Regions from separate parts of the Homo sapiens genome. Here region 1 is linked to region 2. The links come from fine-mapping of genetic effects on gene expression. A gene starts in region 2. The other region holds a variant in brackets. All regions are shown on one strand. Distances are between the middles of the regions.

Region 1 (8,322 bases), 32 kb before region 2:
CACCACGCCCCGCCTGTGTGGACATATTTTTCAATTCTCTTGGGTATATTCTTTCTAGGAGTAGAACTGCTGAAGCATATGGTAACCCTATGTGTAACTTTTTGAGTAACGCAAGGCTGTTTTCCAATGTGGCTGAGCTATTTTACATTCTCACCAGTCATGTCTGAGGGCTCTCATTTCTCTATAACCTTTCCAAAATTTGTTATTTTCTCTTTTTTATTATAGCCATTTTTATAGGTGTGAAGCGGCATCATATTCCAGTTTCGATTTGCGTTTCCCATCTTTTCTTGTGCTCATGGCTGTTTTTATTACATAGTTATTTTAATGATATATTTCAAATTTCAGTTTAAAAACTAGTGTCTGAGCAATCTCTAAAGCTGATCAGTACATTTTTAAAGTATTGTAAAAACTCATGAGTTTTAATGTATTTAACATGTTTCAATCACTACTCTTTATTTATTTATTCATTTATTTTTATTTTATTTATTTATTTTTTTTTGAGACAGGGTCTCGCTCTGTCACCAGGCTGGAGTGCAGTGGCGCGATCTCAGCTCACTGCAACCTCCCTCTTCCGGGTTCAAGCGATTCTCCTGCCTCAGCTTCCTGAGTAGCTGGGACTACAGGTGCATGCCACTACGCCCAGCAAATTTTTGTATTTTTAGTAGAGACGAGGTTTCACCATGTTGACCAGGATGGTCTTGGTCTCTTGACCTCGTGATCTACCTGCCTCAGCCTCCCAAAGTGCTGGAATTACAGGCATGAGCCACCATGCCCGGCCCAATCACTACTCTTTTTTAATGCTCAGATTATCCCATCTTTGGCCACTGAAAGTCCCTGGAGGGTGTACACAAATTGGTTTCTGGGCCCTTTAACACAGTTCCAGAAGAGTCTTTGATAGCTTCCTTTCTTTCTAGTATAAAATGTTCTAGCCTCGTTGATGTGGTTTGGATATTTGTTCCCTCCAAATCTCATGTCGAAATGTAATCTCCAGTGTTGAAGGTGGGGCCTGGTAGAAGGTATTTTGATCACAGGGGTAGGTCCCTCAAGAATAGCTTGGTACCATCCTGTTGCTAATGGGTGAGTTCTCACTCTGAGTTCATCGAGATCTGGTTGTTTAAAAGTGTGTGGGCCAGTTTGGCAACTCATGTCTATAATCTCAGCACTTTGGGAGGCCGAGGTGGGCAGATCACTTCAGCCCAGGAGTTTGAGATCAACCTAGGCAAGATGGCATTTGGGAGAATAATGACATTTTTGTGGCCTTAGTTTTGGTTTGCTTCTAACTGGAAACAAGACATAGAGCAGAAAACGTAAGAAAAAATTAACATTTAAAAAAATTTTTTTTTCAGACAGAGTCTTGCTCTGTCTCCCAGACTGGAGTGCAGTAGTGCGATCTTGGCTTACTGCCACCTCCGCCTCCCAGGTTCAAGCAATTGTCCTGCCTCAGCCTCCCGAGTAGCTGGGATTACAGGTGCCCGCCACCACACCCAGCTAATTTTTGTATTTTTATTAGAGATGGGGTTTCACCATCTTGGCCCGGCTGGTCTCGAACTCCTCACCTCGTGATCCACCCGCCTCAGCCTCCCAAAGTGCTCGGATTACAGGTGTGAGCCACTGCGCCTGGCCTAAAAATTAACATATTTCAACAGGTCTAGAGTAATTATCAATTATAACAAATTTGCTCTTGAACAAATTTGTTCAAAGCAATCACAGGAAGGGGGAGGGCTTCTCTCTTGGAAGGTACAACATTGAACAATAGAACTATATTTCATCTAGCTCAAAACCCCATTATATGCCAGGCACAGTGGCTCATGCCTGTAATCCCAGCACTCTGGGATTGTATTTTTTGGTAGAAGCAATTCTCCTGACTCAGCCTTCTGAGTAGCTGGGATTACAGGCATGCACCACTACACCCAGCTAATTTTTGCATTTTTAGTAGAAATGGGGTTTCACCATGTTGGCCAGGCTGGTCTCGAACTCCAGACCTCAGGTGATCCGCCTGCCTCTGCTTCCTAAAGTGCTGGGATTACAGGCGTGAGCCATTGTGCCTGGCCCAATGAAATAAACTTAACATCGCTTCTGTGACAGTCCTATGAGAGCTGCACAACTTGAATCTAACCACGAGGAAGCAGACAAAGCCAAATTGAGAGATGATCTACAAAATAACCAGCCTGTAATCTTCAAAAATATCCAGGTCATGAAAGGCAAGCCAAGACCGAAGAACTGTTCCAAACTGAATGAGACTAAAATGAAGTGTGACTCTGAACTGGATCCTTTGGGACAATTGGAGAAACCTGAATGGAGTCTGAGGACTGTTCGTGGAAGCAGAACAGTGCTAATTTCCCACTTTTGATGGTTGCATTGTGTTTCTAAAGGAGAGCGTTCTTATTTGTAGGAAGCACACACTGAAGGATTTGGGGGGTGATGGGTATTGTGTCAACTTACTCTCAAATGATTCCAGGGGGAAAAGTGCTTTGTTCTATCTTTACACTTTTCTGTAATGTTGTGATTGTCCAAAACAGTTTTGTCAAGAGAACAAAAAATCAGCATGGTTGGATCTGGCCCCTATCACAAATTACAGACTTACAATGTGCACATATGTTATTTTGTAATTGGTTTATTCAGATTCCAACAATGAGAAATGCTCCACATAAATGCCAAAGTTTGCTGTATAGCTTAAATAAACTGATCGGAAAAGAAAGGCATGTCCCATGTTACTTTCACACGTGAAAACAGGAAGTATAACTTGGTATAACCACTAGAAAAACAAACATCTATTCTGCTTTTTATTAAAACATTTTAAAAAGCCATCCATTAGGTCAATAATCAGTAAATTCAACCCATCATTTTCTTTTGCACATGTATTGGTCATGGAATTTCCAGGTAAAAATCTTATCTGACAGACAAGGTCCGCTCATGTGATTTAGTAATCTAAGGAATTCGAATCTTTGGGCCTACCCTGAGCTCCTCTTTGTGCCTTGGGGCATGGGTTCTGGGGCCTTCTTGCTCATCTGACTCATTTATTGTCATGTATCACTCCTCCCTGACATTGCTTTGTGCTGGTTACATCTTAAAAGTCTGTCTTGGAAGTAACTTCTTTTTTTTTGAGACAGAGTCTCCCTCTGTTGCCCAGGCTGGAGTGCAGTGGTGAGATCTTGACTCACTGCAATCTCCACCTCCCAGGTTCAAGCGATTCTCCACCCTCAGCCTCCCAAGTATCTGAGACTACAGGTGCGCACCACTACGCCTGGCTAATTTTTGCATTTTTAGTAGAGACGGGGTTTCACTATGTTGGCCAGGCTGGTCTCCAACTCCTGACCTCAAGTGATCTGCCTACCTCAGCCTCCCAAAGTGCTAGGATTACAGGCATGAGCCACCGCGCCTGGCCAGAAGTAACTTCTTAGGATCAGAGATCTTTAGGTACTTTGCATCCCAAATTTCTTTATTTTGTGACCAGAAGAAAATATTAAAAAGAAAAAAAAATTTTTTAAACAGTTCCATTAGAGCAAAGCATCAAAAA[A/C]TCCTGTTCCATTTGAGGTAGGATGTTAGCTGCTCACACTGACCCTGATCCCCAAGGCTTCGTAGAATCCTCCTGCTCTGAAGTAGTGTCAGGCATAATTATTTTTTTGCTTTTCTTTTTTAAACTACAAGCTTTATGTGCATGGTTTGGTCCTCATGTTGCTGCCCTAGCTCCGGGGCAGATCATTATCCGAGGACACCATCTTGCATTGCACTAAGAGGTCATTATTAATGTCTCAGCAATTAAGCTCCTTCCCCCAGGCTGGTCCACTGAGGTGACACTGCGGCAACCCTGAAATCACATGTTCCATTGCAGAGAGCACTACACAATACTCTCTGGTACTTGGATGTGCTTTTCTTCTAATTTTGAATGTTGTACATTTTCCTTCCTCTTTGTTTTTGCTTCTGAGTACAACTTTGTGATGTAGTTCATGCAACGCATAGGGTGGGAAGCTGAAAGAAAAACATGTTGAAGATGAATATTTATTTTGAATAACATTGCACCCATTTACTTGAAACACTTTGATTGGATATCATATTTTTAGGTTCACATATTGCTTTATAAAAACCTAAAACTTACTGATGCATATAAATGGTCTGAAGGCATTATTATATTCTTTTTTGTTTTTCGTGGTTTTTTTTTGAGACAGGTTCTCACTCTGCCACCCAGGCTGAAGTGCAGTGGTGTGATCACGGCCCACTGCAGCCTCAGCCTCCCGGGCTCAAGTGATCCTCTAACCTTAGCCTCTTGAGTACCTGGAATTACAGGCACACACTACCATGCCCAGCTAATTTTCAAATTATTTGTAGAGACGGGGTTTCACTATATTGCCTAGGCTGGTCTCAAACACCTGGGCTCAAGTGATCCACCCGCCTCAGCCTCCCCAAATCCTGGGATTATAGGCATAAGCCACTGCACTGGCCTATACTATAATTTTTAAAGAAGTCTTACTATATAAACAATATACTGGTAAACGTGAAATAAAATATACAGATATTTCTGCTGTAAAATAATCTGTTGCTGACCATAACATATTGCCTTAGCAAAATTGCACACTAGAAATAACAGGGCTTACTGCAAAAATAGGGTCGGGGCAGATCACACTCAAGGCCTATGCAATTCTGTACAAAGAGACTAGAGATGGCCCCAGAGAATATTTTTAATATGTCCAAAACAACACAATTAAAATGCTAGATTTGAGGGTGCTAAGGCAAGGAGGATGAAAGTGAAGGCTTGAGCTCGGGAGAAAGTGAAACCCCCAGCAAACCCCTGAAGATGTACTTTTCTGGGGAGGAATCCCCTGAGTCGTGCAGGTACTCATTTTAAATATTCTTAAAGTTGGCTGGGCGTGGTGGCTCATGCCTGTAATCCCAGCACTTTGGGAGGCCAAGGTGGGTGGATCACTTGAGTCCAGGAGTTCAAGACCAGCCTGGGCAACATGGTGAAACCCCATCTCTACTAAAAATATAAAAATTAACTGGGCGTGGTGGTGCGTGCCTGTAGTCCCAGCTACTAGGAAGGCTGAGGCGGGAGGACTGATTGAGCTCGAAAGGTCAAGGCTGCAGTGACCTATGATGGCACCATGGCACTCCAGCCTGGGCAACAGAGTGAGAGACCCTGTCTCAAAAAAAAAGAAAGAAAAATTGTTTTAAAAGTTGAACTGGAAGGGCTTCCATTTTTCCAGCTAACAGACATAATTCTACTCCCACTGTTTTGGTTCTTCTTGCCTAGGAAAAACAGCTCAGGGAGCAACCCAACTCACACATGATATTAACATCATTTTCCTGTCCACCAGGTGAGTATGTGATGACGGGTATTTAGAAACAGGTGTTGCAACACAATCGACTTGGATGTTATTTACACACATTTTCCCCTCCCACCCCCAGTTTTCACACAGTCAATTCTCTTGTGTTCCTTTCCCAGCTAGTACATCTATTCATTCTTTTCAGTTCACGCTCTAGTAGGTCAAAACCTAAAGAGGCAGAGGTGTTATAAAAGACAAGCCTCCTACAAAAACCTCAGTAAAACCAATAGAATAGAGCGGCAAAACTCGCTGTATTTCTTGCAGCTCCTGGCGGGTAGAATAAGTTAGTTTGTATGGAGGAAATAATATGGTTGGAAGGTGGAATATTCTTGCTTTTCTATAGTCCTAGCTTCTGCCTTCCAGATCTTTATCAAGAATACAATCCCCAACCTCCACTTCCCATACACAATCTCCTTCCCATCCCGATTCTCTTCATTTTCTTTACATATTTTGTCTCAGGAATTGCAATGAAGTCATCCAAAGGACCTGACACATGCCTTCTTGAATTAATTGAGCCTATAGTCACTCATTTAACACAAATTTATCAACTAACCTGTGCTAGAATCTGAGGATACAGAGTAAATCTGATTACTCACCACCTAAAGGAGTATTGTAGTAGCTATGTAAAAACACCAAAAATTACAATATGGAGGAAGACGTGCTTCTATGACAAAGGTGTCATAGGATCCTCTGGTGGTCTTGGGGTATCCCTGTGTGTGACGTCAAACAGTCAAGGATGGCTTCCCAAAAGGAAGTCACCTTCTGCTACATGAACTTAACTGCTACTATTTATTTTTGCAGATGAGACTCCTTAAGTTCTACAGGATGATTTAGGAGACTTTCTAGTGCTAAAAAATCAGATTTTGATTCTTCTCCTTCTTTTTATTTATTTTTATTTTTATTTTTTTGAGGTGGAGTCCCTCTCTGTCACCCAGGTTGGAGTGCAGTGGCACGATCTCGGCTCACTGCAAGCTCCGCCTCCCGGGTTCACGCCATTCTCCTGCCTCAGCCTCCCAAGTAGCTGGGACTACAGGCTCCTGCCACCATGCCCGGCTAATTGTTTTGTATTTTTAGTAGAGACAGGGTTTCACTGTGTTAGCCAGGATGGTCTCGATCTCCTGACCTCGTGATCCGCCCGCCTCGGCCTCCCAAAGTGCTGGGATTACAGGCGTGAGCCACCGTACCCAGCCTCCTTCTTTTTAAAGGCGACTACTTAATTGCGATGGTTAATTTTAAGTGTTAAGTTGGGTGGATTAAGAAATACCTCAAATCTGGTAAAGCATTATTTTTGGGTTTGTCTATGAGGTTGTTTCTAGAGGAGATTAGTGTGTGAGTCTGAGTGGAGTAGGTGGGCATTGAGATTTGCCCTTGATGTGGATGGGCACCATCCATTCTGTTGGGGGCCCAGAAAGAACAAAATCAGAAAGAAGGCAAATGTGTTGATCTGTCTGCTGGAGCTGGAATACACTCCCTCCTCTCTCCTGGCAGCAGAACTCGAGACTCCCTAGCTTCGGATTTCAGGACTTAACGCTGGCGGTCCCCTGAGTTCTCAGGCCTTTGAACTTGGACTGAGCCAGGCTACCAGCATACCAGGGTCTCCAGTTTGCAGACCTCCTGTCCAAGGACTTGTCAGCCTCCATAATCTCATGAGCCAATTCCCCTAATAAATCCCACCTCATACACACACACACACACACACACACACACACACACACACACACACACACATATTCTGTTGTCTCTGTCTCTCTGGAGAAATCTGACTAATACATTAATGAACCTCATTGTTCAGATCTCAGGTCATACAGTTGACTTACATTGGCCATTTTTCTCTTCAGATGATGTTTCTTCATTATTTGACCTTGATCTGTAACTTTCTAGTGTGTGTTCTGAAACTTCGTTTTCTACAAAAAAAGAAAATCAAGCAACTAATTTCTGATGCCATGGACATGTAGAAATGTATATTTGAATAAGATAATACCTCTGTTACTGTGCAATAGTAGACTTACCATGCCCCTCCCATAACTCATACCTCATTAATTCAACACATAGTTTTTGATTCCTGTAGGGACTGTGCTAGGCAGTCCTGGGATTTTTATCCTTCTGTGAATAGAAGTGTCTATCATTTAATGCCAATTTCTGGATCTATGCTAGTTTCTATTGATTATACACTCTTAGACTATAGTCCCTGGAGATTCACACCCGAGTTTACTAGAAAACAAACAATTGCTTATCTGAGACAGCACTTATCAAATAGATTATGTAGTGTCTGACAGAAAGCTTTAATGGACAGAATTTCCCTTTTTTTTAGCCATTTGTTCTGGCGTCTTATAGCCCCCGTCAGGTTCCCTGCCCACTGACCTTTCTTCCATATCACATGTGCTTTCCTCAGCTTCATGATGAAGAGCTGGACTATGATGAAGAGTATGAAAATGAGGAAGGACACCAGCGTGAGCAGCAGGATGCCACTTTTCTTTCTTGCCAGTCCTAAATACTGAGGATTTGCTTCTATAAGGAAAATGAAAAAGGAGTTTAGATACTTTGGGTTTTTTTTTTTTTTTTGCCACTGGAGAATATGTAACAATACTTCTACAATGTGATATAAGCTAATAGACAGCTCAGATGAAGAGATGAGAAAGAGCTTACCCCTGAAGGTAAAGAGACTTACATTGTTCATTCTCTGAGAACAAGCAAACAGGCATACAACAAACAAGGCAATTATGTGTGATGATTTGAAAAGATTTTTTAAGTGACGTAGCTATTGGGCTAGTTATTTTTTATTTCTACAGAAAGCATATGAGAAAATCGACTTAAGTTATAGTCAGGAGATTCAAATTAGCTTTAGGAATGATTTTTAGCAAAATATAGTTAAGTAGCAAGAGGGATTGTTAAGGAGTTTAAAAAACTATCCAAATAAAATGAAAATTTATTTATCTTGGTTAGGTTAAATGTGGCCCTACAGGAAGGCATTTGGGCTAAATCAGATGAGCTTGTGAAAATA
Region 2 (8,305 bases):
GAGTTCCCTTATATAAATTAATGTCATCACCAACCACTGCACACCAGATATTTGAGAGGTGCTCTAAACTCTTCTTTCTCCAAAACATCCTTTAATCAATTTAGTCCTCTTTTGTCACTATTATTGCTGCCTTAGTTAAGGACTCCATCATTTCTTTCCTGGACCACTGTAATAACTTAGTTCTAGTCTCTCTTCTCTCTAATTCATCATCATCATCTGGTTCTAGGATTACATTTTAAAACCATGAATTTGAGGCCGGGCGTGGTGGCTCAACGCCTGTAATCCCAGCACTTTGGGAGGCCGAGGCGGGTGGATCTCCTGAGGTCAGGAGTTCGAGACCAGCCTGGCCGACATAGTGAAACCCCATGTCTACTAAAAATACAAAAAATTAGCCAGGGATGGTGGCAGGCACCTGTAATCCCAGCTACTCTGGAGGCTGAGGCAGGAGAATCACTTGAACCTGGGAGGTGGAGGTTGTGGTGAGTGAGATTGTGCCATTGCACTCCAGCCAGGGCAACAAGAATGAAATTCCATCTCAACAAACAAACAAACAAACAAACAAACATATAACCCATGAATTTGATTATGTCTCTTCCTTCATTCAAGTGTTTGCTATGGCTTCCATTGCCTATAGGAATCAGGCCCAAATTCCAGCCGACTTGACTCCTGTGTTCTCCTCCTTTGCCATGTCGTGATACTCCTTTTCAGATAGTCCTTGTACATGTCCACTTGCTGTTTCCAGAAAGTTCCAGGCTCCAGAAGATAGTTTGTCTTTTTCTATGATATTCTCTTGTCCTGGAATGTCTTTCTCATCTCCTTCAAGACTCAACATTAAGACCCAACTCAAGACTCAACTTATAGGCTCAACTCAAATTACACAACTTTTGTCAAAACTTCCAAAACAGGCCTTAGCTTCCCTTTTCCCCATAATGTCTTTCCCCTAGTTTCCCAAAGTCTTGAGATATACTTCTATTACAGCACTTAGCACATTACTTTATAATTATTTGGTTACAGGTGTTTCTCTGTAGATAGATTACAAACTCCTTATGGAAAAGCTGTTTGCCATCCACTCATTTTAGCATAATGTAAAATTTTAGATATTGGTTGAATTAGTGGATAAAAATGAGTAAATAGGCCGGGCTCGGTGGCTCACACCTGTAATCCCAGCACTTTGGAAGGCTGAGGCAGGCGGATCATGAGATCAGGAGATCGAGACTATCCTGGCTAACATGGTGAAAGCCTGTCTCTACTAAAAATACAAAAAATTAGCCAGGAGTGGTGGCGGGTGCCTGTAGTCCCAGCTACTCGGGAGGCTGAGGCAGGAGAATGGCGTCAACCCGGGAGGTGGAGCTTGCAGTGAGCTGAGATCACACCACTGCACTCCAGCCTGGGCGACGGAGCAAGACTCTGTCTCAAAAAAAAAAAAAATAGAGTAAAAGTATATATTTAGGAATAAATATTATAATAGGATGCTAACTTTGCTCTTTAACTGTTATATCAAATAATAAAGACTAGGGCTAAGTTAAAGCCAGAGACATGCAATGCATTAATTCTCAAATCAGAGCCCTAGTTACATGACTGTCATGAGGCATTAAGCAAAAGTGTGTTTTAATTCAGATCATTACAAAAAAAGATTTTTATTATTTTTAGATTGAATCAATAGAGAAAATTGCAGGTATAAAAATAAATCAGACTTGTCAGAATCGGAATATTTTTAGTACATTTTAAAGAAGCTGTCTCAACATGTCATCTAACATGTGACTTTTTCCTGGGCAAAGAAAGTATGAAAAGAACTACTCAATTTGCAATTTTCCTTTGTTTTCTGCATCCTACCCTCCACAAAACAATGAAAACAGAGGGTTCAAAATTCATTGGATTTGACATTTTCATTGTCTACAGTGTAATTTAATGGGATGAATTTTGAAAAATGCTTCATTTTTATTGTGTTTTTACCAGTCCTAAGACTATTTATTCTGGGAGTGGCCTTGAAAAGAGGGCAGGCTCTGAGATTACGTGACTTTTTTTTTTTCCATAAATTTTTGGCAGCCATAGAAGTAACACTGTAGAAGTAGTCACAGTGATCTTCCCATAATTTAATTTGCTAAAATCAGCTGACAGTTTATAGCTTTGCCAAAACTGATGATTTGCTGCCTTTTTTGCTGACAAGAAAGCAACATGGTCACCTCCTCCTAATTACGTCTGGGATGGGCTTGAGCAAGGTTAGGTCAGGGGTGGCAGCCACTGCTCAAATGCCATTGAGCTTAGATGCCCTCGGGTGGCCCCTTGAACGAGTTTTCAAATAGGACTTTTTAATATTGAATCCTCCAAATTGTGAAAGTCAGTGGTTTTCCAACTTTTGATCCACATTAATACATTTTCTGTCACAACTAGTACACACACACACACACACACGTTAATTAGAAGTTTCATGAAATAAATACTTTTACTATGTGCTTTATAGGCTGGTATTTATGTTGTCATATTCTAGCTTTAAAACTTGGGCAGGTTACATAACTTCTTTTCTCATCTTTAAATTGGGGATATTAGTACCTACCTCAGTACTTCCGCTATGATTAAGTGTAATTAACACAAAGTACTCAGCACTGTGCATGAAACAATATTTTTCCTCTCTATATAAATAATATTTAAGTAATTTAGGTTTACCTTGAAACATAATTTTTGCTATTTATTTAAAAAATGTATTTTTATGAGTTATTTTTTATGAGGCAATAACTCAAAGCCTGAAAAAGTTAAGGTCAGTGAAAGGCTTTAAACTCTGGAAAAATTGAAATCATCCTAATTTTAGCTGTCTAAATGTACTCTTTTTGAATGTATTAGCTATTCTTTAAGCCACTTAATGAAGAAACTAATATTATTCATTACCAAAATTGAATCCTTATTAAGTGCCTCAGGGTACAGGGACCAAAAAAAGAAGGCATTAATTGAAGTATATAAAATAGGGAATTGAAGTACTATGTAAAATAGGAAATCGAGTTTTTTAAAGTAGCGTCCTTCAGATGCCATTCCAGATTAAATGTAGATTTAGAAGGATAGGTGCATTTCATGAAACAGAACTACAGTTTCAATATTTGGTAACAAACACACAAAAAGCAAAATTTTTGAGTGGATTTGTGAGGGATGTCCTTTGCATGAATCTGATACAATTGTAAGCAGAGACTGAGGGACAACAGGAGCCACTTCCTACACCCCTGCCCCCACTTTTGGGTAGAAAATAATTTGACCTGCTCCAAAAAGGTAACTGCTTCTATCCTTAATTTTCATAATGCTACATTAGGATTAAGCACTAAAATCCAAATTTGAAAATTATAGTAAAATGTAAAGTATAACTTACTCTTTAAAAATAAACACGAAGTTTTCATTGGTCTCATTATTACCTCTGAGCTAAATAAGTGTTGCACAGCGCTTTATCATTTTCAAAGTGCTTTCACATTTGAAATTTGATCCTTCTAACAATCCAGGGAGTTTGGTGGATCAAAAGTTTTTATCATTTTCATTTTAAGATGCAGAAACTGAGTTTCAAAGAGATTAAATCGTTTGGCTAAGATTTATACAGCAAGGAAATTTTAAAATTCAACGTGGAGGCCGGGCGCGGTGGCTTACGCCTGTAATCCCAGCACTTTGGGAGGCTGAGGTGGGCAGATCACGAGGTCAGGAGATTGAGACCATCCTGGCTAACACGGTGAAACCCCGTCTCTACTAAAAATATAAAAAAATTAGCCGGGCGTGGTGGTGGCGGGCACCTGTAGTCCCAGCTACTTGGGAGGCTGAGGCAGGAGAAAGGCGTGAACCCGGGAGGCGGAGCTTGCAGTGAGCCGAGGTCGTGCCGCTGCACTCCAGCCTGGGCGACAGAGCGAGACTGTGTCTCATAAATAAATAAATAAATAAAATAAAATAAAATTCAATACGGATGCTCTTTCAACTGGTATGCCCTTAAAAGACAGAGCCTAATAAGCTTGTTTCATCTTGCCGTAACATAGGACCCACAGAGACACACACTATAATGATCCTTTCTATACTCCTTAGCCATTGAACGAGAGATCAAATAAACGCAGTAACATCCCTCAGATGCATGATTTGAGCATGGCTTGGAAAGTATTAGCAGTTACCTGGGTTGTCTTCTACAGCAGCTCCTCTGTAAATGCAGTTGACTGACTGATAGGTAGATGTGGCAAAACATTAAGTCAGCTGAGCAACAACAAAAATAACTCTAAGTCCTTACCTTGCAAGGGGAACCATGCCAGCAAGCTGAGAACTCTCCACCACATACTGTGCTGTGCTGCTGTGGCACCTTTGTCAACTTCCTCTAGATTCTGAGACAAATGGAGCTGAGTAGTTTCTTTTAAAGGGGGAGAGGCAGTAGATCTGTGACCTCATGTGTATCAACTCCTCCATCTGTCTGGAAGCCCCCTCTTAGTTAGCTGCCCCCAGAACACCTCCTGGTGGAACATTTTGGGGACCACATGTATTATCTTGATGGCAGAGAGGTGTGAGTGATGTGTTGGTGACAAAAATTGTTTTACCACAAGTGGGTAGTACTGGTAAATCAACTAGTTGCAAGGTTTTTAGAGGGAGCATGGGTGGGAGAAATACTGTAAAATGTCCCTGTGTAGTGACGTCATCCTTATTTTTACTTTTCTAGTTTATTAGATAAATACAATTAGATAATTTTTGCTCAACCTTTGGGAATATTTTATTTCTATGCTGACATCAATTTATAATTGTTGTCGGGGAGGAATTCATTCATTCATATAGATATACTCATTTTTGAAATCTATATATCTGTCCACCCACCCATCCACCCATCTTTTCATCCACCCACTCACAAATACAAATCTATTCATCCACCTATCCATCCATCCATCCTTCCATCCATCCACCCACACATCCATCCACCCATCCATTTATCCTTCCATCCACCCACTCACTCATGTATTACCTGCCCACTCATTCCCCATCCACCCATCCATCCATCTATTCATCCACACATCCATCCATCTCTCCATCCATCCAGCCAGCCAGCCATCCATCTATTTATCCATCCATCTATCCATCTATCCATCCATCCATCCATCCATCCATCCATCCATCCATCCATCCATCCATCCATTTATCCACCCATCCATCCATTCACCCATCCATCTATCCATCCATCCATCCGTCCATGACCTATTCATTCACCCACCCATCTATCTATACATGCAAATACTCATCCATCCACCCAACCACCCATCTATCTATCCACCCACGCATTCATCCATTCACCCACTCATTCATCCATTTACCCACCCATCTATCTATACATATGTCCGTCCGTCCATCCATCCATCCATCCATCCATCCATCCATCCTTCTATCCACCCATTCATCTTGTCACCTGTACAGCATCTAGTATGCACTACTTTGAGACATGCTCAAATAAAAAACATAAATTCCTTGTTTTTCAGGAGAATATAATCTAGTGGGGGAGACAATGTACATATGAACAGTTCTGGTATTTAATTTTCATTAATTGGACAAATTGAGATAGATTTAATGTAGTTTTTCCAGGAGCACACAGTAAAATATTAGTAAGTTTATGTTTAGAAAACAGAGATCAGTCTGCAATGCTTGGAAAATGAAAAGGAAACACTACTTACTGGCTCTAATTGAAATTAGTGTTAATACTCTGATAAATTTGATGAAGTTTGGGTAGGAAAAGTCTTACTCATCAAAAATGTCTTCCAAATATTTTGTTGGCTGGGCACAGTGGCTCATGCCTGTAATCTTAGCATTTTGGGAGGCTGAGGTGTGAGGATCATCTGAAGCCAGGAGTTCAAGACCAACCTGGGCAACATAGTGAGACCCCCATCTCTACAAAAAATACAAAAATTAGCTGAGCATGGTGGTGCATGCCTGTAGTCCCAGATACTTGGGAGGCTGAGGTGGAAGGGTTGCTTGAATGCAGGAGGTTGAGGCTGCGGTGAGCCGTGATCACACTACTGTACTGCAATCTGGGTGACAAAGTGACACCCTGTCTTAAAAAAATAAAAATAAAAAATCCTCCAAAACACAATATTTTGTCTTTCAAATTTTTCATTTTTTAATTTTTTCCCTTTTGCTCATAATATTCCATCCAGGAACTTCTAATTTTTATACTTGTCCTCAGTAGAAGAGAACAGTTTACCCAGGGTCACTCTTCCTCCATAGGGCATCCATGAGGGGGTCTCAAGGTCCTTTTCCCTTGCCTTGAGGTGGAGCAACTCTGAAGCTCCCCAAGGGATCAGGATCAGCTGAGATCTTTGTTGTAACTGCACCTCAGTCCAGCTTCTACCGATTCTCCAACTTGCTTCCTTCTTGTCACCAAGAGTACTCATCTATAAACTTCTGCACACGGATCTCTGTATCAGCTTCTGTTTCCCAGGAACCTGACCCACAACAACACTTGACATAGGTTGTCAACGAGTGAATGAAAGACTAAATTGACTCTTTATTTGAGATGTAAATGCTACTCTTTTTGCTCTGAAGTCTAAAAAGATGTTTGACTTACAATTTCCCCAGAGCATTAAAGAAGAGCTTACTTTAAATTGCACTTTGGACGATGGAGAGTGTATCCTTTTCATCCACGGGTGCCATATTCAACTGGTTGAAAACCTTGACAAATGTCACAATAGTCCACTGGACTTGGACATTAAGAACGGTTGGTGGGGGAAATGCTACAAGGTGAACTGGTGGACGACATACATGTGTGCTTTCCAGGGTCCCTGTTCTCATTACCCCCACTTCAGCCTGCAGCTCATGTAGTATTCAACAGGAGAGGGCAGCAGATTGTGGCTGCTCAGTGAATTGGGAGAAAAAGACGAGGTTGGAAGGTAATAAGTGGTCTACCTATTTTCTAATGGGAAAGAGTCTACTGAACAGTATGTGGGAGACCTCACAACTGATAGCTAGTTTGTCATTTTGGTCTCCGTTTTATGAAATCTTCATATTATGTTTCAATACTAATAGGAAATAACATTTGGTGGGGTGGCAGAGGGGGGACATATTTTGGAGAAATAAACAAACATCCTCTCTATTTTTCATCGTCACCCTTGTCAACCTGAGTTTTGGGGGTGGGGGGGTGCAAACATGAAAAATAAGACATTTATTAAATAGGCTAAAGATGAACTGTTTTAAGGGTCAGAAAACAGGGGATTTCCTTATGTCTAGAAGCCACTGGGTTTTTTTGTTGCATTTACAAAAGGGGCCTACACTTTCTTCTTGACCTTTCACAGATTCTGTGAAGAATCGTGACCTTTCCCAAGGTCAGAGTAAGAGGTGGACTCGCCTGCATCTACCAGAAGATGCCTCAGATAACTCACACCAAGTGTTGAGGTTTTCTGAGCACTGCTGTAAAACTTGCACAAAGTGACTGTGGAGTTTCTAAGCCAGAGCAGCAGCCTTTGAAATTAATTATTGATTCAGAGAGAAGTTTCCTAGCAGTAGTGGGAGCTTAGTGGGACGAGCATGGGAGTGAGTAGCAGACAGACCCAGGCTTGTCCCCTAGGCCCTGTCACTAGCAGCTGTGTAGCACTAAGCACACTACCTGCCTGTTGGAATCAGTTTCCTCACTTGTAAAATGGGAAGAATAATTACAGCCTGAGGTGACTGTCCAGGAATCATAAGGCAGGAGCTGAGAAAGTTCGACTGTAGCATTTTTAAAAATGAAGAATTGGCCGGGCGTGGTGGCTCACGCCTGTAATCTCAGCACTTTGGGAGGCTGAGATGGGTGGATTGCCTAAGCTCAGGGGTTTGCAACCAGCCTGGGCAACACGGTGAATCCCTATCTCTACTAAAATACAAAAAATTAGCCAGACTACGGTAGCTGTAGTTCCAGCTACTTGGGAGGCTGAGGCAGGAGAATTGCTTGAACTTGGGAGGCGGAGGTTGCAGTGAGCCGAGATTGCGCCACTGCCCTCCAGCCTCGGCGACAGAACGAGACTCTGTCTCAAAAAAAATAAATAAAATTTAAAAAACCCAAAGAATTAAGAAGTTTGCCTGAAGTGACACAGTGAGTCAGTGATACACACACACACACACACACACACACACACACACACATTTTTCTTTGTCTATGAGATTCCTTTGAAGGACTTCAAATTTTTATACTTGCCCTCGGTGGAAGAGAACCAGCTCACCCGGGGCCACACCTTCTTTATGGGGCACTCATGGATGGTTAAATTGAAAATATTATAATACCCAGAGCACCCAGCATCTTGGCACAAAAAACATTCTCCATAAATCTGCAGACCTCAGGTGGCTGGAGCAG

The links.
Region 1: its variant is fine-mapped to the expression of CRTAM in whole blood (TOPMed, PIP 0.96).

What each region holds. Positions count from the first base shown.
Region 1 is chr11:122,866,916-122,875,237 of GRCh38, reverse strand. It overlaps CRTAM (cytotoxic and regulatory T cell molecule), which reads right to left. Exons shown (of 10, transcript NM_019604.4): 8 at 7,683-7,829; 9 at 7,139-7,225; 10 at 2,595-3,969. The coding sequence ends at 3,839. Among named protein-coding and RNA genes, the nearest start is that of JHY, 12 kb to the left of the region's middle. The variant A/C (reference allele first, on the strand shown) is at 3,518.
Region 2 is chr11:122,834,528-122,842,832 of GRCh38, reverse strand. It overlaps CRTAM (cytotoxic and regulatory T cell molecule), which reads right to left and starts at 4,333. Exons shown (of 10, transcript NM_019604.4): 1 at 4,241-4,333. The coding sequence starts at 4,286.